Homo sapiens: one gene and its partners. The protein of the gene in region 5 purifies or fractionates together with the protein of the main gene of each other region. This does not show direct contact. Each region holds a gene or a part of one and is shown on either strand. Other genes may lie near its edges.

Region 1 (3,500 bases), on a different chromosome or scaffold from region 5:
TCATCTGCATTCATTCTTGCCTCTAACTTTCTAATTTAGCTTCTTTACCCACACATCCCAAAATTGTCCTTAATAAGGCCACAAGGCTGGGCGTGGTGGCTCATGCCTGTAATCCCAGCACTTTGGGAGGTCAAGGCGGGTGGATCACAAGGTCCGGAGTTCAAGACCAGCCTGGCCAACATGGTGAAACCTTGTCTCTACTAAAAATACAAAAATTAGCCGGGTGTGGTGGCGTGCGCCTGTAATCCCAGCTACTCAGGAGGCCTCAGCCTCCTGAGTGATTCTCAGCAGGAGAATCACTTGAACCCGAGAGGTGGAGGTTGCAGTGAGCCGAGATCATGACATTGCACTGCAGCCTGGGCGACAGAGCAAGAATTCATCTCAAAATAAATAAATAAATAAATAAGGCCACAAATGGCTTCCTGGTTATTAAATAGAAAAATATTTTTCAGTTCTCATTTTCCGAGCTGCATTTGATACCTTTGGCTGTTATTTTGTTTTTACAACAATTGCTTTCTTTGGTTTCTAGGATATCACCAGAAGGGTAGTTATGGTTTTCTTTCTTTTTTTTGGTTGCTATTTCTCAACAGCAGTATTCTCAATATTTCTTCCATTTCTGATTGTTTTTTTCTCTCTCCTCCTTAAATATTGGTGTTCTTCAAGGTGACCTATTTTTCTTACTCTTATATACTCCCTGGGTGTCTTTAATTCCCATGGTTTTAAATCTTATGCATAGATCAGTGACTCCCATAATTATATCTTAAGGTGAAATCTGTCACTTTGGCTGCAGCTAAATATCTTTTTTTTTTTTTTTTTAAGACAGAGTCTTGCTCTGTTGCCCAGGCTGGAGTGAGGTGGCACGATCTTGGCTCACTGCAACCTTTGCCTCCTGGGTTCAAGCGATTCTCCTTTCTCAGCCTCCGGAGTAGCTGGGACCACCGGCATGTGCCACCACACCCGGCAAATTTTTTGTATTTTTAGAAGAGATGGGGTTTCACCGTCTTAGGATGGTGTTGCTCTCCTGACCTCATGATCTGCCCGCCTTGACCTCCCAAAGTGCTGGGATTACAGGCCTGAGCCACCGCGCCCAGCGCAGATAAATATCTTTATACTGGACATCTCCACTTAGATTTCTTGGTGGCACCTGAAAATTAGTGTGTTTAAAATAACTCTTCGATCTCTCTTCCCTTTGCCATTCCCCACCTTTGTTTTTTTGAGACAGAGTCTTGCTCTGTCAACCAGGCTGGAGTGCAGTGGCACGATATCCGCTCATTGCAACCTCCGCCTCCCAGGTTCAAGCAATTCTCCTGCCTCAGCCTCTGAGTAGCTGGGACTATAGGCGTGTGCCACCATGCCCGGCTAATTTTTGTATTTTAGTAGAGACGGGGTTTCACCGTGTTGGTCAGGCTGGTCTCGAACTTCTGACTTCAGGTGATCCACCCACCTCGGCCTCCCAAAGTGTTGGGATTACAGGCATGAGCCACTGCATCCGACTTTTTTTTTTTTTTTTTTTTTAAAGACAGCTCTCATTCTGTCGCCCTGGCCGGAATGCAATGATGCAATGATAGCTCACTGCAGCCTTGAACTCCTGGGCTCAAGTAATCCTTGATCCTTGATCAAGTGGGTGGAGTGGCTCATGCTTGTAATCTTAGTACTTTGGGAGGTCGAGTCAAGAAGATCCCTTGAGCCCAGGAGTTCGAGACCAGCCTGGACAACTTAGGGAGACCCCATCTCTACAAAAAAATTTAAAAATTAGCCAGGCATAATGGTGCACGCCTGTAGGCCCAGCTACTCAAGAGGGGAGGTGGGAGGATCGCTTGAGCTTGGGAGGTCGAGGCTGCGGTGAGCTGTGACACTTCAGCCTGGGTGGCAGAGCGAGACCTCATTTCTGAAAAACGCACACACACACACACACACACACACACACACAACCAAAACTTATATTTTGTAGAGATAGGGACTTGCTATTGCCCAGGCTGGTCTCAAACTCCTGGCCTCAAGTGATCCTCCCACCTTGACTTTCTAAAGTGCTGGGATTGCAGGCATGAGCCACCGTGCCTGGCCTACATTTCTATTCTTTTCTCTTTCTGTTCAAATGAATAAACACGGCCATCCACCAGGTTGCTCAGGTCAGAAACCTAGGAGTCATCCTAGATTTTTTCCTCTCTTCATCACCCATATTCAATTCCACATAAAATCCCATGAATGCTGTTTCCTCAAATCAGTTTTTAAAAATTTGAGTAATGTATAGATACTAAATATTTCTCTGCTGTCCCAATGTTAAATTATTTATTTATTTATTTTACTTCTGACACAGGTTCTCACTCTGTTGCCCAGGCTAGAGTGCAGGGGCATGATCACAGCCCACTGCAGGCTTGATCTCTTGGGTTCAAGTGATCCTCCCGCCTCAGCCTCCCAAGTAGCTGGGAATATAGGCACGTGCCACCACAACTGGCTAATTATTTATTTTTTTGTAGAGACGAGGTCTCACTATATTACCCAGGTTATTCTTGAACTCCTGAGGTCAAGCCGTGCTCCCACCTTGGCTTTTCAAAGTGCTCGGATTACAAGATCAAGCCAACATGCCTGGCAAAAATTATTTTTATTAAATGTGTATATGCAAACACAAAACTAGATGTAAACTTCATAGGGTTATAGCTATTGTACTATTGTAAAACCAAACATTAAAAATATCAACATATGGCTGGGCATGGTGGCTCACGCCTGTAATCCCAGCACTTTGGGAGGCTGAGGTGGCCAGATCACTTGAGGTCAGAAGTTCAAGAACAGCCTGGCCAACATGGTGAAATCCCGTCTCTACTAAAAATACAAAATTAGCCAGCGTGGTGGTGCACACCTGTAATCCTAGCTACTCGAGAGGCTGAATGAGGCAGGAGAATCGCCTGAACCCAGGAGGCGGAGGTTGCAGTGAGCCGAGATCGCACCACTGCACTTTAGCTTGGGCAACAGAGCGAGACTCTGTCTCAAAAAAAAATCAAAAGCAATATAATTCAATTTTAAAACATTAAACAATATGCTACATTTTGTTTGAAACCACAGTTGATTTGATTGTTTTAATTTTGAATATGTTGGAACATTACTTGGGTGACTATCATGCTCACTTTTTCCTTTTTGTTTTTGAGACACGTTCTCACTCTGTAGCCCAGGGTGGAATGCCTAATTATAGCTCACTGAAGTCAAACTCCTGGGCTCAAGCAGTCCTCTTGCCTCAGCCTCCTGAGAAGCTAGATCTACAGGCATGTGCCACAACTCCTGGCTAATTTTTTAATTTTTAATTTTTTTGTGTGGAAATGGAGTCTCGCTGTGTTGCCCAGGCTGGTCTCCTACTCCTGAGCTCAAGTAGTTCTGCTTTGGCCTCCCAGTGTGATGGGATTACAGGCATGAGCCACCATGCCCAACCTCTACACGATTTTAATAGGGGAAGAATGGGGTGGGGGAGAGGACATTTACTGGAAAACAGACGACTTATAGGAAGGATA
Region 2 (3,088 bases), on a different chromosome or scaffold from region 5:
CCAGGACAATGGGTGTTTCCTAGGCAAATGAACAAGACTGGTCGTCTTTAGTAACTATCCCCTACTTATCACGCATGGAGAAAACCAGACACTCATTCAGTCATACAAATATCTTCATCAGGCAAATCAACAGCAGCAGCAGTAGTCAGAATGAACAGGATACCAGTCCACTGTGGGCTTTATTTTGATCCTGAATGGTCATGCTAATCCTTACCATCTCCACTAAATAAAAATGGAATAAGAGTCACTTCCTTTATATACTTGTTTTTCTTGTCCCTTCACACCTGATCTATATTTGATCTTTAAAACGGCCATTTCTATCCCCATTTGAAGTTTAATTCTGATTTAAGAAAGGACACACTCTTCTATGCTAAATCAAACAAAACCATTCTTCAAATTTTCAAAGGCTTCCCTCTTCTCCAAAGGTTGCATAAACCATATCTTTTTTCATCAAGACTGACTTCTAGGTCATTCACTGAATCAACATAGCAAAAAACAAGTCACTAGCCACAAACATTTATTGTTGGGGTCAATACGTATATCCTTTTGAGAAGTGTTTCGAGCCATTCATTTGATAACTACAAACACGTCAGAATCTGTTTTACTGGTATATTTTTGGCTTGCATGACAAGGGAAAAGAGATTATTGCAAAATTATGAATGAAGTCCAAAAGGCCTGATTAAAAAAAAATCTATAAAATGGAAGGATTAAACACTGCCCAGCCCTACTGTGTCAACAAAGACGGTACAATTCAAATCAAGAAGACAATCCCATACAAGTCCAGCAAGGCAGATGTTGGCAAGTAGAAGTTAAGCAATCTGTTATACAAAATGCAAAAGGAGTTAAAGATAAATTACAAAAAATAAAAAACAAAATTTTAGTCAGAAAACTATTACTACATAAAGCCATATAAGAATGTGTATTAGTTGTTTCCTTTAAGGGAAAAGGAAATCAAACTGTTGGTTTTCTATTTATTCAGAAGAAAAAATAAAGGAAAGTGTTTGGAAAATATTTCTGATATTAAGTGAATTATTTCTCATCTGCTACCTAGAGTTTACAAACAACTGACTTATCCTTGTCAATCTGTGGAAATGAGAAAATAAAATCAGCGTCTGGCCTTCGTGGGATACTCATAACACCCGAATGAGGTCCAGAGTAATCCTAGATCGGGGGATGTCAATGTTGAGTACTTGGACTTCCACTCTTTCTCCGGGGCCCAGTCCAAGGCTTCTTCTCTTCTTTGTTTTTGAAAGTTTTGCTTCTGTTACATTTCGTATGGGAATCAGCCCAGATTTCCCCACTCCTATATCCACAAAAATTCCAAAGAGAGTGGCATTCTCAACTTTGCCTGTAAGAACTGTCCCAATCTGCAGATCTTCCAGGCATACTATGCTTCTCTTGAAATCAGGTTTATCAAAATCTGTAAGAGAAAAAAAGTAAGTGTAAATAAGGCATTGTACTTCCTAGATACAACATAACTTTGTGAATAAGTACTTACTACATACTATGTGCCCAGACCAATATTAAAGATTAAGGGGGGATTATAAAAGGAGCTGCAGACCAACGCTTGCCTTCAGAGAACATGCATATCAGTTGGAGACAGCATTCATGCAGTAGAAACAATTCAAGAAAATTTACTTCCTTCTACAATGCTACACACTAGCATTATACATAAGGATCGAGAAGACAGTCTTATTTTCCTCTTTGTGAAGAGGTGATGAGAATATATATTTGCTTAACAAATATACAAAGCTAAACCACAAACACTGAGAAAGTAAGACCTTTGGAAACAAGAGACTGGAAGCTTTTTTTTTGGTTTTTCCCCCAGTGCCTGGATTATTAAATTGTTTAAAGATGGTAGAAAGTACATCAACTTTTGGCCAAATGTGGATGAAATTCAAATGTTCTTTCTTCCTCACTTCTTCCCACAAATTTGGAACTCAGAAAATCAATTCCCACCTATTTCATATATATTTATCCAATCAACATTTATGGATTCTTGATTATCTATGGCTCAGAATCCCAGACCAGGTAGTATCTAATATTCTTTCTCTTCTTTCAATTAAATTCATCAAACATTTGTTAACTCTATTATCTCCTGGCCAGGCACTCTGCTGGGTGCTAGAGAAACAATGATGAAGATACAGATTTCTGTTTCCAAGTTCTTTATAGCCCTTTTTTCTTGCTCACCCCAGCATACATTTCTTTGTTCATTATTGTCCAAAAGGTAGGCATAAAGCATGCCAAGGAATCATTATGGTTCTAGTTAAAAACAAAGGTTTTTATGAGGGAGACAGTTAGAGTTAGAACTAACAGTTTAAACGGGGCTGTGGATTATCTGTGGACTCCATTTATCCATGCTCCTCCTGAAGGCCCCCTTTCCTAGGATTACTGAGTGTTGACTCTAATAACAAAGAACACATTCTATGCTTGGATCTCCTTTTACTAAGGCCTCATTTTCCCCTCCACCCATTCCATTTCCTTTTCCTCCACAGCTGTTGGCTTTATCCTGATGACTTGTTAAAGCTATCCTTTACATTTGTATTAACAACTGGTCACCCCTTTCTTCCCTTCCCCCAGTCCAACCATACTGATACCAAGACGTTTTAAAAATTAAGCTTTTTCTTATAAAACAAAATAAAAACCTTCTTTAAACTCCAAATCTCACTGTACACATAAAAATGAGTACGCTAAAATTGGAATTGATTCTGTGGAATTTTACCTGATGCTAAAGCAGTGAATTCCAAAAGCAAGAAACCTACTGTAATGTAATATTACACCAGGCTAAGGCTGTGTCAAAGCAAAGTGGAACTAAGTCACTGATCAGGGGCAGAGGTAGGACGGGTCTCCGAGACCCCATAGGCATTGTTTTTATGCTTGGAAATTCTTTCTCTCTCTCTCTTTTCTTGGGGAGGTCCAGCTGCTGCAGATTCCCTAAGGGTTCCTGATCAGCTGTTTAGTTTAATCTTGCAAGGAAAATCAGAGTCAGGAACTACTTAACATATTCCTGAAGACAGTTGGGGACACTGAGAAATCAGAAAATCCTCTGTGTACCATGCAAACTTTAACACTTTCATAGCCAAGCATT
Region 3 (2,646 bases), on a different chromosome or scaffold from region 5:
TCCACCTCCCCAGGTCCAAGGGCCATCTCATCGCAGATGGGAGTCTCATCACCACCTGTATGTACCGCAATCTCAAGAAGGGCTGTGGGAGCCGGGCCCGGGCAGAGGACCAACAGGCAAAGACCAGCTTTGGAGCAGGCAGGTTTCCTGGGCATCATCTGTTCCACAGCATTTACTTCTCAGGCCTCTCTCTTTAAATGGAGACAAGGTCTTCCCGTATTGCTCAGGGTGGTCTTGAACCCCTGGGCTCAAGTGATCCTCCCTCTTCAGCCTCCCAAAGCACTGGGATTGCAGGTGTGAGCCACCACACCCAGCCTCTGGGGCATGTCTTTTCCAACGCTTCATCACTTGCTACAATCTGAGATGAGAAAGGGCCTGGAAGGCTGTTTAAGACCCTCAGTGTGAACCCTGGGCTCCATGCTGCCTGTTCCCCTGACATCTGTCCTCAGCCCAAGAGTCCCAGAAGACAGTAGCAGGAGGACAAAGGCAATGACTCCAAATGGATAGGAAATACTTTTATTGCAAAAAGTACTGAAGGTACCCTAAAACCTTAAGCAGGATTCTGGACATGGAAGCCTACAGAATAGACAAAAATAAATATGTCAACCTGCCCGACCCTCTGGGGTGAACTGGATGTGGACACTGGAGGGAGGGCGTCCTTTATTACATACGCGTCTCTGAAGTCATATAAATATAGAATACCTTATAGTAGATCAGCATTAAATACCAGTCACTGTGTTTATATAACTTAATTTGTGCTGTAGACAAAGTTCTGTACATGTAACATGTGGCCATGCCCAGGCATCCCAGCATCTATCCTGAAGTCAGTGTAAAGACATCCTTAAGTGGTGGAGACATGACAGCCCAGAACCCACAGCAGAGGGAAACTGGGGAGAGGAGGGGGCCTGACCCTGGATCCCCCAGCTGGTGTCCACAGGCTAGAGGGACCCATTGCTGCAGAGGCTGGTGCCTGGTTTTCCCCATACTTGGTCTTCTAAACCCAAAGACAGGGTCCTGATGGTGGAGACCTGGGTAGGTCCGGAGGACAGACACAGGAGAGGGCACAATCCCAAGCGCAGCTCTCCTGCACTGGCTCGCACCACAGCCCTCATCTGAGTGGCCGACACAAGCCTGGAGTACGGCAGCTGCCAACCACAGCAAAGCCGCAAAAAAGACTGAGAAAACAGGAACCCAGAGTTCCACAGGGGCAAGGCCTCGCAGACCAGCCAAGCCCGAGATGCCCTGTGCTGGCAGTCATCACAGTCTGGACAGCATGTCCTTCCGTGGGTGCCCAGCTCAGTGCCTGGAACGGTCAGGGATTGAGGGCGTAGCCAACCTTGTATGGCCAAACCCAGCCCTTACGCCCCTGCTGACAAGGGAGACAAGCTGCCCCGCTGAACTCCAACAACCTCTGGGTGGGCTCAGCAGCCCCTAGGAAGTTAAGCGAGAGCTACAGGGCAGGGGGGCTCCCTGAGGGAGTTTGCACAGACCAGGAGGGGCCAAGGGGTAGCCCCAAGGGAGCAGAGGAAGGAGAAGGGCAGGAAAAGGTCCAGGGCACAGGGCAAGCAACAGTGCCAGAGGGTGCCTGGTCACAGGAAGCCCAGCTGCATGTTCCATGCTGCCCACAGGACTCCCAGCCAGGCCCCAGCAGGCCTGGACAGTGCTGGGCCCCCATCCTCGGCCTTCCCAGCACAGCAGGTGCTGGAAGATGACCATGACCCAAGCGAGAAGAGCCGCCATGAACTGTGGTCATACCAGCCAGGGCGTTCTAGGACAAGACTTCCTAACCCGACAGCAATGACATCCACAGTGTATGGACTGGGCTCTTGAGGAGCACGAGGGAGAGGCCAGGCAGCCCTGTCAGGGGTCCTGGGACATATTAAGGCAACCAGCCACGCCATCTGGCCAGCACAAGGGACTTAAGTGCAATCTGCTAAGTGACAGTGCTAAGACTGTCTTCCTGCTGAGAACATCTCTACGAGTTAGTTCACTAGAAAAGGCAATAAACATTTGCTTTAACCTTCTTTAACCAGGAAAATGCAGTCTAAATGCCCTCTTCTCTAAAAAGGAGGCAAGGACAAAAACTCAAGCCAAGGCTACTTTGGGTACTTTGAGGGGAAACTGACCATTTCCAAGAGAAACCCAGGGGCTGCCAAGCTGCGGCATTCACCCTCCTGCAGAAAGCTTTGGCAATGGGACTTCTTAGACTGGACAAATCAAACAAAGCTGACCCTGTAGAGCTCCTTCTTCTTCCCACTTCTTCTAAGGTCAAACTGCAAGCATTTTCAACTTTGGAACCAACCACCAAAGCCACCTCCTGCCCAGGACTTCCTTTAGAAGCAGTGGGACTCCTCACGCGCAGGCCCAGCAAGGGCTTGGGCACCCGCAGCTGTCTGCTTGGCTGGGTGTCAATGATCACCTCCCAGGGCCTCCCGGGAAGGAGAGGGTGAGAGGTGAGGACGCAAGAGCCAGTCAGGGGGTAGGAGCAGGGGGCTATGGCTGAGGAGGCCCAGCATCTGATAGGACCACATCCTCTTCACCCTCCAAGCCCACACCCCTGCTCATGTCCCACTGTTCTGGGTGCAGCCTCTGGAGGGCAGCCCTCTGAGGTGTTTTGATGTAAGCCCCTGGCAGGGGCCAGGAGCT
Region 4 (3,014 bases), on a different chromosome or scaffold from region 5:
ACCAGAGACTAATTCAGATTGCTGTGAGCCACCATCTGCCCAACCGAACAGGGGAAAAGCTCCCACACTGTGAGCCGAGTGTGGCTCGCAGGCGCCGGCCCCCTCAGCTGTGTGGCGGTGACCTGGTGTCCAAACAACCCCCGCAGCCCGAAGCGTGGCCCACGCCGGGCTTGGCTCATCAGACCTCTGGTCAGAGGCTTTGGGGGTCCCTGGGGATCCCACCGCGGGCCCCCTTCGTCCCCTGCCAGGGAGTGCAGCCCACGTACCCGTGGGTCGAGCCGGTCAGGACGCCCTGGGTGGCGGAGGCCCTACCTGCTTCTTGAGTTTCTTCGTGGAGTGATAGTCTACCAGTGCCACAGAGAGAGGCACGGCACGGAGGTCGGGGGCCCAGAGCGCAAACAGCACGCCTGTGTCTGCGGCTGGGCGGATGTGAGCCACGACTTCTACTTCCCAGGTTGATTCAGTCCCGACGTCCAGAGGGGTCCGCACTGCAATGAAAGCGGTGCATTATAGGGTGGTATGCACGGTGGAGAGGCCACAGTGAGGTCGGAGCAGGGCCTCGAGAGATGCAGTCCCAGCCGGGGTGGGAAGCTGTGCAGACAGCCCCGGATCTGGGACGTGATGGAAAACTCAACAGACTGGTTCAGATCTTGGCCCGGAGCCCAGAGGCACCGGGGACCCCCAGGCTGTTTCTCCCTGGCCACACCAGTACCCCACTTCCAAATGCCCTGTAGGTGACCACCAGGCCACACAGGCCCGTCTGAGGGGCCACAGGCTGTGCACCATGGGACGCAGGCCTGTCCCTGCCTCCCTCCGATGTCCTCTTGTTTCAGGAGCGCCTGACAGCTCCTTCCTCAGAGCGTGCGTGGCCTCGTGCCTCGCATCTCACCTGCAGCTTTCAGGTAGCAGCACAGGGCCCAGTGGGGGCTGAGAGTTTAAGATAGCATGCGGACAGGAGCTGTCATGAGCACGGTGGTCTGGGGTCTGAGCTGTCAGGAGCACGCGCGGTCTGGGGTCTGAGCTGTCAGGAGCACCCGCGGTCTGAGTTCTGAGCTGTCAGGAGCACCGTGGTCTGGGGTCTGAGCTGTCGGGAGCACGCGTGGTCTGGGGTCTGAGCTGTCAGGAGCACCCGCGGTCTGGGGTCTGAGCTGTCGGGAGCACGCGCGGTCTGGGGTCTGAGCTGTCAGGAGCACCCGCGGTCTGGGGTCTGAGCTGTCGGGAGCACGCGCGGTCTGGGGTCTGAGCTGTCAGGAGCACCCGCGGTCTGGGGTCTGAGCTGTCGGGAGCACCTGCGGTCTGGGGTCTGAGCTGTCAGGAGCACGCGCGGTCTGGGGTCTGAGCTGTCAGGAGCACATGCGGTCTGGGGTCTGAGCTGTCGGGAACATGTGTGGTCTCCCAGGGAGAATGCCACGGCATATCCTCTCCACGCTGAGCCCTCCGTGGACTAAGAAGCCAGAAGAAAAAACTTCCGCCCTGTTTTCAGTGTTTCTATCTCACCCAGAATTCCAAAGTCCTGATAAAGAAGCTGTTTTAGGAAAAAGGACCCCAAATCACTGTGTGTACACATTTGTGACTGGGCGCCTCGCACTGCAGGCCAAGGTTGGGGTCAGAGTGAATTGTGCTGGTTTCCCTGTCTCTTTCCCACGGGGCTGTGTACGCCTGAAACCCACATCGCCTGTCCTGCCTGTCCCTAGCTGGTACCCGCCACATCAGTTCTCAACAACCATTTATGGCACCGAAACACACAAAATCAGAAAAAGTAACAAAAATATTGCAACAGAATCAAAAAGTAACAACAAAAAGTCTCCTGTTTGCCGGTCTTCCCATAACCTGTGAAGGGAGAGATGATGGTGTTCTTTAAAATGGAAGCTCCCAGTCGGGCGTGGTGGCTCACGCCTGTAATCCTAGCAATTTGGGAGGCTGAGGTGGGTGGATCACCTAAGGTCGGGAGTTCGAGACCAACCTGACCAACATGGAGAAACCCCATCTCTACTAAAAATGCAAAATTAGCTGGGTGTGGTGGTGCATGCCTGTAATCCCATCTACTCGGGAGGCTGAGGCAGGAGAATCGCTTGAACCTGGGAGGCGGAGGTTGTGGTATGAACCTGGGAGGTGGAGCCAAGATCGTGCCATTGTACTCCAGTGTGGGCAACAAAGGCGAAACTCCGTCTCAAAAAAAAAAAAAAAAAAAAAAAAGGAAGCTCCTGACAGGAGGCTAGGCACATGTTGGCCATCGGGGCTTCACAAGGGCACCGGCCTCTGCTCTCCCCGGGAAGGTTTCCCGGCTCCACGTGGCCCCTTGCATGGAGGCTGCACAGACCCGGAGATCTGCAAGCCTGAGCCCAGCAGAGTCGCTGCAGAGTGAGCCAGGCCAGTACTACCATTCCCAGCAAGTCTCCTCTGTCTTGTAAGAGACGTTACTGGTATAGTTTGAGATTCACTGGAAATGCATGGAGCTGTAACTGCTTCTGTCCGGATAGACCAAAAAGGGCCGGCAGACGCGGCCGGCAGTCACTGGAAATGGCCCCTGTGATGCCTGCATAAGGTTACCCCTGAGAAATGTGTATGATATTAAGTGGAAAAAGGATTTAAGCATTTCATATGACATGATTTCGTGTCAAACATTATGATGCTCTAGATTTGGAAGTCCAAAAATCAAGACTGAGGGAGAACGCGTGTGCACAGTCAGTCCAGCCAGTGGCAGATGGCGCTTTTCTCAGATGCCTTTCCTGACACGGTCACGCTTTTGACACCCGGGGGGAGACGGTGACACTGGATCTGGCTCAGGACGGGGCAGGACCCTCCCCTTTGCTCCGCGTGGATCCCCTTGAACCTGGGGTTCCTGCTGGGTGCTTGAGGGCCGGCAGCCCTGAGATCTGACGGAGGGGGCGCTGCCTGCCCTCTGTGCGTGTGGGGGCTTCACCATAAACGGCTCGGTGTCCAGGAATAGGGCAGGGCTGTGGTGCCCCAGTGGGGCCCACGTGGGGTGGGAATGTGAGGCAGGGTGGGGCCGA
Region 5 (4,284 bases):
CAACAGCTAAGCCACCTCTGAACTCTTCATTCCCTGTGAAGGAAGCGCTGGGGGCCCTGGAGGCTAGGCGCCTGGCTCTCAGGGAAAGTGACTGCCTAACGCAACACAATAGGCACATTACAGCCCTTGCCTTAGAGGGAGATTAGGGTATCTGCCTAGCACTAGAAAGAAGAAGAGGAAAAAATCCCTGGGGAGCAAGTTAGTCTCTCTGAGTAATGCAGAGGTTTAACTGAAACAATGAAACAAAACAAAACAAAACAAAACAAAACAAAACAAAACAAAACCCTCCAGTATAGTAAACAGAGCCAGCAGACCAAGGCATCTTTACCAGCTAGACAAATCAGAGCTCAAAGGAAAATACTATTTCTTTGCTATTATTAGACTGTCTCTCTCCATTTCCGGATTTGGAGGACTGTAGAGGGGCCACAGGAGGGTGTTCCCTCCCTCGCCTCCCAAATAAAAGCCCTTTGCTATAATTTAATCCATCCCGGTAAACCTGCCGCTTATCTTACCCTAAGCAGAAAGAAATGACCAAAGAGAGGGAGGGAGCTGTAAATATACCTAAAACGAATAAGCTCAAATTCTCAAATTCCTGGTAGGGGGTTGGAGGGAGAATTCTTCTGAACCATATTTGTAGGATTTAACGGTCCCTCCTTCCCCGACGGATCAGGAGTGGATGGATTCTCCAGGATTCATGCCACATTAGCAGAAGCATCCATAACCACAGTATCTGACTTATTAAGAAAGTCATGGCATTTTTTTGAATGACCCAGTATGGTTCACCCAGCATTATATACCATTCAAGGGCCCCGAAGGCCTGAGCCCAGAGTAAGGCATGTAAACATCTTCGTTTGATTTTATTTTCTCATGAGTTTTTTTTTGATTAAAGAATTGGGATGCTTTTTAGAAAGCTATATATCCTGCCTCCTTCCTGTGTACACAATAGGAAACTGAGGCTCAAAGGCACTGACTCCCATGCAGTAATCCTCTCACTAGCACGGCCAGGGCGTCTCAAAGAGCAGGTCTGCGGGAGGATCTGAGGGATGATTTTTTAAGAGTGTCTTCCTGAAGAGGAACATCAGCCCCCAACCCCTGAGAAGCTTACTCCCCAGACACCATCTGTCAGGGCACTCAAAGTTTAGCCTACGACCTTCCAGACGCAGAGGCCGGAGGCAGAGGCTGGAGCTCAGAGGGTCACCTGCTCCCACCGCGGAGATGCCCAGCTGGGCGCTGCCCGGCCTCCCCCGCCGCCCCCGACGGGCCGCGTCCGCTGCCAGGGCGGCCCAGCCCCTCACCCAGGGGCGGCCGCCGCCAGAGCCACCCCCTCCCCGTCCAGGCCCGCAGCCCTCTGGGCAGGCCTTTCTGGGGCTGCCGCACCGTGCCACGGATGCCTTGCTACGTGACCTTGGGGCCGGCAGGGCGGGTCGCCGCCAGGTGTCTGTGCCTCAGTGTCTCCGTTCTGCGAAATGGGAGAGCCGCGTCAGCGCCGCGCCCGGGCCGGGGAAGGCTCCGCGGGGCCGAGCTCTGCGGAAAACGTGCCGGCGGCTACCCCGACGGACGCAGCGCGGGCCCCGCAGGGAGCGAGCGCGCCTCCGGGCGCCCCACCTCGGGGCCGCGTGTGTGCCGGGCCGGGCGTGAGAGCAGCCTCCCTCGCACGGACGGCGGCGAGGCCCGTAGCCCTCCCCCACCGCCCGGGTCAAGACGCGCGGGCCCCCTCCAGGGCGCCCCCACCCCCCGCGCCAACGTCGTAGCGTTTCTGCCCCTTACCGAGATCCCAGGCCGGGCCGCCGAGCCCGGGACACGCAGGCCGTCCCCGGGGCCCCGAGGCCGCGCGTCCGTGCGCGCGCGGGCCGCCCTCACAGGAGCCGGGGCCGCCTCGGCCATGGCCCTGCGCTGTCCGGCCCGGGCCCCCGGAGTCGCCGCCGCTACTGCCGCCGCCGCTACTGCGCGCGGCCCCACGCAGGCCCGGCCGCCCGGCGCTCTCCGCAGGCGGCGCCGGCCCAGCCCTGTCTTCCCCGCCGGGGCTCGCGCGCGGCCGTCGGGCCCCGGCCTGCTCGGGGCGCGCGGGGCGAGCGGGCGCGGGGTCGCGGAGCCCGAGCGGCGGCGTCGGAGCTGGGCGCGCGGCTGTGCGGGCGGCCCGGCCGGCTGCGTCCCGGCGGCGAGCTGGGCCCCGGCCCTCAACGGCGGCCCCCGGCCCGCGCGCCGCCCCTCTGCGGCCGCGGCTGGGACCCCAGCTCCGGCCCCGGCCCCGGCTGCGAGCTGCGCTGCCGTCCCGGCGCCTCTTTAGCAGGGGAGCTGCACAGCAGCTGCCATGTTGCTACAAACTGCATCCTGGGAGGCATGTCCCTCTCAGGCCGTTTAAAGAGAAACACTCCGAGGCTCGTCGGAGGCTGCCGGAACCCAGACAGCTCCATCTACAGCCGGTAGGAGCGAACAGTGTCGAGCGAGCCGCCCGGCGGCGACGGACACGCCCTGAGCCCGGGCCAGCCCGTCGTGGAGCCCGGGCCGAACCGCCGGGGCCTCCCACCCTCCAGGACCCTCCGGCCTCTCACCTGGGGTCCTCGCCTGCCCAGGCACCCTCGGGCGAGGCCGGGAGGCGCGCGGGCGGAGGCGCAGTCGGAGCGCGCAGCCCAGGCGACGTGCTGGGGTCTGGAGGCGGCTTGATTGGCTCCGACAGCCTTCCTCCCGCCGATCCCCTGCGCCTCTCACACCCAGAACCCGGGGTCGTTCCCTTTCAAAACCTGCGCTCACAAAGGGATCTAAGAAACCCGTCACACCAGAGAAAGCCCGGAGTTCATGTGACCAGCTCAGTGCAGCCCGGGTTCCAGGGACGCGGGCTGTGCTTCCAAGGGGAGCCAGGGGGTTGGGTGCTTTTGTGAAATGCCCGAGTGTTGTTTTCGACATGAAAGGACCGAATTCCTAGAATCAGACCCTGCTGGGGCTGGAAGTGGCCAGACGGGTCATTTAGGAGGAAACTGAGGCCGAGTGGGCAGCGACTTGTTTACCCTCAGTCACAGTATGAATGAATGCTCTTTGTAACCATGAGAAGTCCCAAAAGAAATGCAGGAGCTTAGAGTTGAGAACTCCCCTTCCTGGACAGGTCCACTTAAACATGTATTAATTGAATACCTACGAGGTGGCGAGAACTGGGGATGAATTGAAAAGGAAAAAAAAAGAAGAAACTATAGGCAGGCGTCCTGGTTACTAGCGATGAAGCCCAACTGGAACTAACTTAAGTGAGGGAAGACGGCGGGGGGGAGCAGAGGACATTGTGTTTACCTAATGGAACCCCAGGAGTGGAGCTGGTCTTGGAAGGCAACAGGACTCAGTATGCTGGCAGCTCAGATAATGGAAAGTTATGGCCAGACGTGGTGGCTCATGCCTGTAATCCCAGCACTTTGGGAGGCTGAGGTGGGCAGATCACGAGGTCAAGAGATCGAGACCAACCTGGCTAACGTGATGAAACCCTGTCTCTACTAAAAATACCAAAATTAGCTGGACGTGGTGGCGCGGCCCTGTAGTCCCAGCTACTTGGGAGGCTGAGGCAGGAGAATCTCTTGAACCCGGGAGGCAGAGGTTGCAGTGAGCCGAGATCGCCCCACTGCACTCCAGCCTAGGGGACAGATCAAGACTCCGTCTCAAAAAACAAAAAAAAGGAAAGTTACAGATAGAGGTAAGGCCAGAGCTATGCATCCTGTCCCCTCCCTTCCCGGAGGCTAGAGTTCTCACCCAGGTCTTTATGCATTAACTAACATGTGTGCATTCGTAAACAATGCACACTACTGGTTTTGGTATTTTTACATTTTATGTGAATGATATTATCCAGTCCCTATCCTGTTGCAACTTGCTTTTTTCCATGGGTCATTTTGTTTTTGAGATACAGACATGTTTAAACAAGAATATCTGGTTCATTCATTTTACCCACAATATAGTATTTCATTGAATACATAAACTACAGTTTACGTTCCATTCCCCCTAGAGGAATGAGAACAAACCTGCTGCCAGCGACATCTGCATGCATGTCTCATTGTGCACTGCTAAAGTGCGTCTCTAGAGACGCCTAGACATGGGACTCTGGATGGCAAGAGCACCTTCATCTTTCCCCGGCTTCCCGAACTGCTCACTGAAGGGATGGTGCCTACTTACACACCCACTATCGTGTGATTTTCTCTTTCCCCATCCTGGCTCATACTTACTGATAATGGACTCAGAACGTTTGCCGACATGATGACTGTGAAATGGTAGCTCATTATTTTAATTTGTATTTGTATTTCCCTGATTAAT
Region 6 (4,138 bases), on a different chromosome or scaffold from region 5:
AAAAAAAAAAAAAACCATGAGATCCTGTAATATAAGACATATGGAATAGCACAGGGAAATTTAAGATGACTAAGATTTTGTAATTTAGGTATCAATGACAATGGGTAATAAGACTTATAGTGTGGGCTGATGTTAGAAAAAAAATGGTTACGTTTATAGCATTTAAACTTATCAAAGTCAAAATAACAAGGCTGATTATCATCACTTTCTAGGAATTAACTTATTGAGAAATTTGATTGAGAGATTCGAAGGTAGCTGCTAAAACTTCATATCACCATCTACAGAATATCAACATATTACATATAACTAGCATATAATAGCAAGAAGTGTTTGAGGTGATGAATATGGTAATTACCCTGATTTGATAATTATACATTATATACATGTATCAAAATATCACACTGTACCTCATAAATGTAAATATAAAACAATTATTATGTGCCAATTTAAAAAATATCTATTTTGGGGGACAGGGTCTCACTCTGTCACCCAAATTGAAGTGAAAAATAAATTTTTTAAAGAGGGTGAAAGGGGCTGGGCACAGTGGCTCATACCTGTAAGCCCAGATTTTTAGGAGGCTGAGGCAGGCAGATCGCTTGAGTCCAGGAGTTTGAGACCAGTCTGGGCAACATGGCTAAACCCTGTCTCTACTAAAAATACAAAAAAATTAGCCAGGCATGATAGCACAGGCCTGTAGTCCCAGCTACTCAGGGGAGGCTGAGGTGGGAGGACCACCTGAGCCAGGGAAGTCCAGGCTGCAGTGAGCTGAGATGGTGCCACTGCACTCCAGCCTGGACAACAGAGCAAGACCGTGTCTCAACAACAACAACAACAAAAAGCAGGTGCGGTGACTCACGCCTTTAATCCCAGCACTTTGGAAGGCTGAGGCGGGTGGATCACCAGAGGTCAGGCGTTCAGGACCAGCCTGGCCAACATGGTGACCCCATCTCTACTAAAAAATACAAAAAATTACCCAGTCATGGTGGTGGGCGCCTGTAATCCCAGTGACGTGGGCGGCTGAGGCAGGAGAATCGCTTGAACCTGGGAGGCAGAGGTTGCAGTGAGTGGAGATGGAGCCACTGCATTCCAGCCTGGGCAACAGAGAGACTCCGTCTCAAAAAAAAAAAAGGAAAAAAAGGGGGTGGGGGCGGAGAAACCATGTATTTGGCCCTACACAGAAATGTGACCTGGAACTATTATCAACATGACATGACTGTCAGGCCTTTTCTGTTTTACATTTCTGTCAGCACATTTTGAACCCTAGTGGTTTAATTACAAGGTACCTCCTCTGTCCCCTACTTCAAGGCATCAAGCACAGCCACTGAGCTAAAATGCTGCCTCCTGCTACAAGAAAGAGTTGACTGAATATCCATTCGGGTGGCAGACAACAGAAATACTAGTCTGTTACCATGCTTCTCAGTAACTGCTGATACCATCCCACTGTCAGTGGAGTAGGAACGTCATCCCAAAAGGTGGCATGTGGAGTGACCATATTTCCAAAGGAAAAGAGCACAATTCTGTGACGTTGCATGCCTCACGTGCCCCAAACTTGAAAAGCAGATTGTTGACTGGGCAAGGTGGCTCACACCTATAACCCCAGCACTTTGGGATGTCCTGTCGGGAGGATCGCTTGATTTTTTGTTTTTTTTTTTTGTTTTGTTTTTGTTTTTTGTTTTTTTTTTTTTGAGACGGAGTCTCGCTCTGTCGCCCAGGCTGGAGTGCAGTGGCACGATCTCGGCTCACTGCAAGCTCCGCCTCCCGGGTTCACGCCATTCTCCTGCCTCAGCCTCCCGAGCAGCTGGGACTACAGGCGCCCGCCACCACGCCCGGCTAATTTTTTGCATTTTTAGTAGAGACGGGGTTTCACCGTGTTAGCCAGGATGGTCTCGATCTCCTGACCTCGTGATCCGCCCGCCTCGGCCTCCCAAAGTGCTGGGATTACAGGCGTGAGCCACCGCGCCCGGCCAGGGAGGATCGCTTGAGTCCTAGAGTTCAAGACCAGCCTGGGCAATACAGCGAGCCCCCCGCCGCAAAAAAAATTGTTTTAACATTAGCTGGCTGTGATGGGGCAAGCCTGTACTTCCGGCTACTTGGGAGGCTGAGGTGAGAGGATCGCTAGAGCCTGAGAAGTCGAGGCTGCAGTGAGTTGTGATCGCACCACTGCATTCCAGCCTAGGAGAAGGGGCGAGACTGTCTCAAAAAAAAAAGCAGATTATTAGGAAACGGTAGAAATGCCCAGAGGAACTAAAGCGGACCTATGTTTGCTGGCTTTGAATTCACTGCTGGGAACATGTGGAAACTGCTTCAGCAAAGGGGTGTCAGAAAGAATCCCCGGAACAAGTGTCAAAACACCCGTGGTTCTTTGTGCTTGAGTTGGGGGCCCGGCCTAGAGAGCTAGCCCTAAACTGCTGCTACACTAAAAGCTAATAATCGTTCCTGCGCTACCTAAAGGTCAGGGAAGGGATCTCAGACAAACGAGGCGACAACAGAGGGACTGGGGACACAGCCTCAGGATTCCCCAGTTGGGGCGGGGGAGGCAGGAGCGGTCCGGACGAGAAGGTCTGGGGAGGGCGACACTTAGACTGTCGGAGGAAGGCCTGCGGCGGCAGAAGGAAAGACAAGGAAATACACAGTTCTAGAGGCTTCTCTCACTCCAGTCCTCAGGGGTCCGGAAAGCCGGAGGGAGTAGAAGAGGAAGTTCCCAACCCCGTCACAGACGCGCCCGAACGCAGGCCCTCCTTACCCGCCGCTTCCCCTTCCCTCCGGCGCCCGCTCAGGCCCTGCGCGCGCAGTCGCGACCAGCCCCGGCCGGAGAGGGCGGGGGAAACCTGGCGGGGGTGACGAGGCGGGAGTGACTGGGCCGTACAGTTCCCCGAGAACTGGAGGCGAAGCCGGGCGGTGGGAAGGGACTTCGGACGCTTCGCGGGCCCTGGGTTTTCACTGCGCGTGCGCGAGGTTCTTCCGCTCGCGGGAGACTGGGCCGCTGGCGCCTCTCAGTGCCCACTGATGGGGCCCAGGGCTTGGGCTTGCTTCCCCAAGGATCAACAGCTTAGCTGCAAGCCTCTGCTTCTGCCTGCTGGGGCCGGCTGGCTCGCCCTTTCCATTCCGCTTGCACTCTGATTCTTGTGGTGTCCCAAGAAGGCCGCGGATCTCAGTTAAGCAGAGACGAGCCGAACACCTGGCACGGTCCTTCTCTACTGTTCTCTCGAATCGTTTTCTGAGTGCATGACTGAGCCTGGCACTGAAGGGATACTTATTTTGGGGAAGGAAGAACTCAAAAGTCCAGTTTTTTTCACTGTTGACCCTCATGTGTCACATTAGTGGCTTTCAAACTGTTTTGATCCCAGCCTACGGTGAACAAAAATATTTTACATCAAACTCAATACCACATACTTGTGAGTATATATATAGAAGTATATATCTAACATAAAATCTCATTTCTTTATTTTTATTTTTATTTTTTATTTTTTGAGACGGAATTTCGCTCTTGTTGCCCAGGCTAGAATGAATGCAATGGCCGGATCTCGGCTCACCGCAACCTCCGCCTCCTGGGTTCAAGCGATTCTCCTGCCTCAGCCTCTCAAGTAGCTGGGATTGCAGGCATGCGCCACCATGCCCGGCTAATTTTGTATTTTTAGTACAGACTGAGTTTCTCCATGTTGGTCAGGCTGGTCTCAAACTCCCCACCTCAGGTGATCCGCCCGACTCGGCCTCCCAAAGTGTATTTCTTTCTCTTTTTATGAGACAGGGCCTGGCTTTGTCGCCCAGGCTGGAGTGCAGTGGTGCCATCTCGGCTCACTGCAGCCTCGACTTCCTGGGCTCTGGTAGTCCTCCCACCTCAGCCTCCTGAGTAGCTGGGACTACAGGCCTGTGCCACCACCGCCAGGCTAATTTTTTGTATTTTTAGTAGAGACAAGATTTCGCCATGTTGACCAGGCTGGTCTCCAACTCCTGGGCTCGAGTGATCCGCCCGCCTCGGCCTCCCAAAGTGCTGGGAGGTGTGAGCCACTGTGCCTGGCCTGAAACAAAATCTTCACAAAACTATGTTTACACTTACGACCCGCAGTGCACTAAATTTTTATTTCTTCTTTTCTACTTCATTACCAAAAACTGCTAACAGGGACCTATTGTCAGCAAA
Region 7 (3,500 bases), on a different chromosome or scaffold from region 5:
AAGCTTCTCTCTCTCCATGCCCAAGCATATCCCAACAACCTTTTTTAAGGAAGAGAGGAAGACTCAGATCCTTAATCAGCATTTAATGCTGAAATAAATTATGTCTGGTTTTTATATTAAAAATTACTAAATATACCTTCAGTTCCATCTTCAGCATTTTCTTGCAGGTCAGAGAAGATTGTAGGTTTCACCAAGACAACACCATAACCTTCATTATTATGTATTATATTATTCACCATGGATATCTTGGGAATGTCATAATGTTCATCTAAGAAGTCCTGTGACATTGAAAACAAATGTTTTAGGAACTGTCATATTCAACATTTCCTGCCTTAAAAATCTTCTTTATTCACACTATTCTAAAAATAAAAGGAAAAAGCTATGTTTAGTCCCATGTTGTAGCACAGTCTGCACCCTTAGTGACACAGCTTTCCTCTGTCATTTCTGCAGATCTATAGGTAACAGCATTCTCACAAGAGATTCCAATCACTGATATTATCAAAATGTGTACACTGTTTATGCTTTTCAAAACCAGAAAATAGAACCCAACAATTTAATAAAGCATAATTTGTAGGTAAAACCATTCTATCCATTGAAAAGTGGGTGTTTTGGCTGATGCTCACCTTAATGAGGATCCCTTCCTTGCAGTGATGGATCCCATTGTCACTCAGGGTGCACTGACTCCCAGGGTAGATTTCTATACCAGCACCCTGTGAGTCACAGTTTGAGATAATGACAATCAGTTTTTAAAAGGCAAGACTATAAGAGTTTATTACAATTACTTCTTAGCCTTTAACACAGTACAAATGTACAGCACAAAGATAAAGTACTTTACAGATAAGTTTTACCAGCCATTTTTAATCAACATTTCCATTTGTTCCATTTCTAGCAAGTTGTTGACAATTTATCATTTTCAAAACCACACACACACACACACACACACACACACACGCTAAGAGTGCCAACACTTGATTCTTGCTCTACTCTCTTTCATTCTAGATAAATGTTTTCTGATTCTGCCAAGAAAAAAAAAAAGTCATTTAACAATTTTGTTGAAAGACACACTTATTCAAAATGACCATTCTCTCAGATACTCAATTAGTTGGAGATAAGTATTTGAATTTAGTAAAATATTGTAATTTGAGGATAGAAACAAGACCCCACATTTTCCAAAACGTGTCAGTTTTAAAATACCCCAACCCAACTTAAAAATCATTTCTATGAGTCCAACAATGGCTTTCCCTACCACACACGTTAACATCAGCAGCCAGTTCAAGTGTCATTCAAACAGAGTAACCAGAAAGATCAAACATGACACTATTCTCTCATACCTTATGGCACCAAAAAACATAAAAATAGTAAGAATTTCTTTCCTAATGCTATGCAAGGCACTCTGGAAAACAAAAATGATTCACTCAAACCTCTATAGTTATTTCAGCAACCATTTGGGAATAATTTAATGCACAACAGCATCGATGAAGAAGAGTTGCTGTAACCATTGATGACACATCTAATGCATGTATGTTCAGTTAATTTTCTAGTAGCAGTAGTATTCCATGAGAAAACATTTATTATTACTTAACCCTGTACATATGCCTGAACCATATGTATACACCAATCTAACTCTTTTGTAGAGAGGATTTTAAAAATGTGCTAATTGTGTCTTCTAAGAGATTTTCAGTTTGGGGTTATGTGCAAAAAAAGATTTTGGGGCGACTATGTTTAAAAATATCTATAGCAAGATGGTTAAAATTAAATATCAAACTGTCAGGAATCACATAAAATTTGTAAAGGAGAACAATTTAAACCAGCAGTCATGTAGCAAGTGAAAGTCATATTCAAAATATGTTATGAAAAGGAACAGATAATTTGGCAATTAAAAAGTAACTGAGGAGCCTGCCACTTCTGGGATGATGGAGTAGATGTCCCTATTCCTCCTGCTAGGTACGACCAAAAACCATGGGCATTATATATAAAACAAGCATAAGACTGAAAAATGGAGAGAAGAAGGCAGACCAGCTAGGGACCTCAGGACCCAAGAAACAACACCAACACAGTGGTAAGTTCCTTTCTTTTTGCTTCATAATCCCTAGACTTGGAGCTGAAGAAGCCAGCAATCCAGTACACCAACAGACATACACCCAAAAAAAAGCTGCTCTAACGAAAGGACTAGGCAACCTAGAAAGAGGAAAACTTTTAGATAATAATAGCTCTATTCCAGGTAAACACCACAGAGCCAGGACTTTCATCCCCACCAACCACAGTTGCAAGGCCCTCCCTGCAGCAGTGTCAGTGAAAACTATATGAGGAGCCTGGACTTGTACCCCCACCTGGCAGTGCCAAGACAACCACTCCCTCCCTACTGGGGCAGTGTCAGAGCAGGCCTAGTGGAGATTCCAGACTTTCACCATTGCCCACTGGTAACAAGACCACTCCCATATATCACAGTGCCAGTGGAGACCATGTAGGAAGCTAGACCTCCCACCCCTACATAGCAGTAAGAAGGAGCTCCCCCACCCAACTTGGGTATCAATGAACGCCAAGTGGGAACCATGACTTCTACCTCCACCAGTAACAAGATGATACCCATCTACCGCCAACCCTGTCCCTTCTTGTAGTAGTATCAGAGAAGCCAAGTTAAAACAGAAGATCCAGATTCTCACAACATAATATAAAAATATCCAACTTTCATTTGAAAATCCCTTGTCATACCAAGAATCAGGAAAATGTCAAAATGAATAAGACAATTAACAGATGCCAAAACCAAGATGTCAGAGATGATAGAATTAACTGACAGTGATTTTAAAGCAGCCATGATAAAAATGCTTCAATAAGCAATTATGAACACACATAAAACCAATGAAAAATGAAGTCTCAGCAAAGAAGTAGATGATATAAAGAACCAAATGGAAATTTTAGAATTGAAAAATACAATAACTGAAATAGAAAGCTCAATGGATGTGCTCAACAGCAGAATGAAAACAACAGAGGAAAGAATCAGTGAACTGGAAGACAGAACAGTAAAATTTACCCAATAGCAGAGAAAACAGTGAAAAAGAAAAGTAAACAGAGCTCCAGGGGTCTGCTGGAATATAACAAAAGATCCAATATTCATGTCATCAGAGTCCTGGAAAGAAAGAGGGTGAGGCTAAAAACATACTTCAAGAAATAGTGACTAAAAGCTCCCAAATTTGGCAGGATTTGGATAATAAGCCTACAGGTTCAAGAAGCTGAGCAGACACCAAACAGGATAAACTCAAAGAAATCCACGCCAACATACATCATAATTAAACTAGTGTAAGCTTAAAACAAAAATCTTGAAAGCATCAATTAAAATTTTATGCCTTACCTATAGGAGAGAAAATGTGATTGACAGCATCAGAAACCATGGACGTCAGATGAAAGACACACAGTATTGTTCAAGGGCTAAAAGAAAAAAAATTGTCAACCCAGAATCCTATAACCAGTGAAAATATTCTTCAGGAATGAGGAGGAAATCA

What was found.
Region 1: the proteins of ZNF777 (region 5) and SEC24A purify together in Homo sapiens (affinity purification with mass spectrometry; one large-scale study listed by BioGRID and IntAct). This does not show direct contact.
Region 2: the proteins of ZNF777 (region 5) and SRBD1 purify together in Homo sapiens (affinity purification with mass spectrometry; one large-scale study listed by BioGRID and IntAct). This does not show direct contact.
Region 3: the proteins of ZNF777 (region 5) and KLHL21 purify together in Homo sapiens (affinity purification with mass spectrometry; one large-scale study listed by BioGRID and IntAct). This does not show direct contact.
Region 4: the proteins of ZNF777 (region 5) and GAS6 purify together in Homo sapiens (affinity purification with mass spectrometry; one large-scale study listed by BioGRID and IntAct). This does not show direct contact.
Region 6: the proteins of ZNF777 (region 5) and IPP purify together in Homo sapiens (affinity purification with mass spectrometry; one large-scale study listed by BioGRID and IntAct). This does not show direct contact.
Region 7: the proteins of ZNF777 (region 5) and SHCBP1 purify together in Homo sapiens (affinity purification with mass spectrometry; one large-scale study listed by BioGRID and IntAct). This does not show direct contact.

Annotation. Positions count from the first base shown.
Region 1 is NC_000005.10:134,655,285-134,658,784, forward strand, and holds part of SEC24A (protein transport protein Sec24A), read left to right. Parts: intron 1-3,500. UniProt on the Homo sapiens protein: Component of the coat protein complex II (COPII) which promotes the formation of transport vesicles from the endoplasmic reticulum (ER).
Region 2 is NC_000002.12:45,388,180-45,391,267, forward strand, and holds the end of SRBD1 (S1 RNA-binding domain-containing protein 1), read right to left. Parts: intron 1,421-3,088; coding exon 1,131-1,420; 3' UTR 501-1,130; downstream 1-500.
Region 3 is NC_000001.11:6,590,224-6,592,869, forward strand, and holds the end of KLHL21 (kelch-like protein 21), read right to left. Parts: 3' UTR 501-2,646; downstream 1-500. UniProt on the Homo sapiens protein: Substrate-specific adapter of a BCR (BTB-CUL3-RBX1) E3 ubiquitin-protein ligase complex required for efficient chromosome alignment and cytokinesis.
Region 4 is NC_000013.11:113,823,063-113,826,076, forward strand, and holds part of GAS6 (growth arrest-specific protein 6 precursor), read right to left. Parts: intron 489-3,014; coding exon 313-488; intron 1-312. UniProt on the Homo sapiens protein: Ligand for tyrosine-protein kinase receptors AXL, TYRO3 and MER whose signaling is implicated in cell growth and survival, cell adhesion and cell migration.
Region 5 is NC_000007.14:149,458,263-149,462,546, forward strand, and holds the start of ZNF777 (zinc finger protein 777), read right to left. Parts: upstream 2,801-4,284; 5' UTR 2,553-2,800; intron 2,327-2,552; exon of another isoform or gene 1,885-2,326; coding exon of another isoform or gene 1,768-1,884; intron 1-1,767. UniProt on the Homo sapiens protein: May be involved in transcriptional repression. Inhibits cell proliferation through CDKN1A/p21 induction by down-regulation of NIBAN1/FAM129A at low cell density.
Region 6 is NC_000001.11:45,747,854-45,751,991, forward strand, and holds the start of IPP (actin-binding protein IPP), read right to left. Parts: upstream 2,801-4,138; 5' UTR 2,744-2,800; exon of another isoform or gene 2,653-2,743; intron 1-2,652. UniProt on the Homo sapiens protein: May play a role in organizing the actin cytoskeleton.
Region 7 is NC_000016.10:46,583,380-46,586,879, forward strand, and holds part of SHCBP1 (SHC SH2 domain-binding protein 1), read right to left. Parts: intron 3,427-3,500; coding exon of another isoform or gene 3,379-3,426; exon of another isoform or gene 3,350-3,378; intron 711-3,349; coding exon 624-710; exon of another isoform or gene 623-623; intron 279-622; coding exon 137-278; intron 1-136. UniProt on the Homo sapiens protein: May play a role in signaling pathways governing cellular proliferation, cell growth and differentiation. May be a component of a novel signaling pathway downstream of Shc. Acts as a positive regulator of FGF signaling in neural progenitor cells.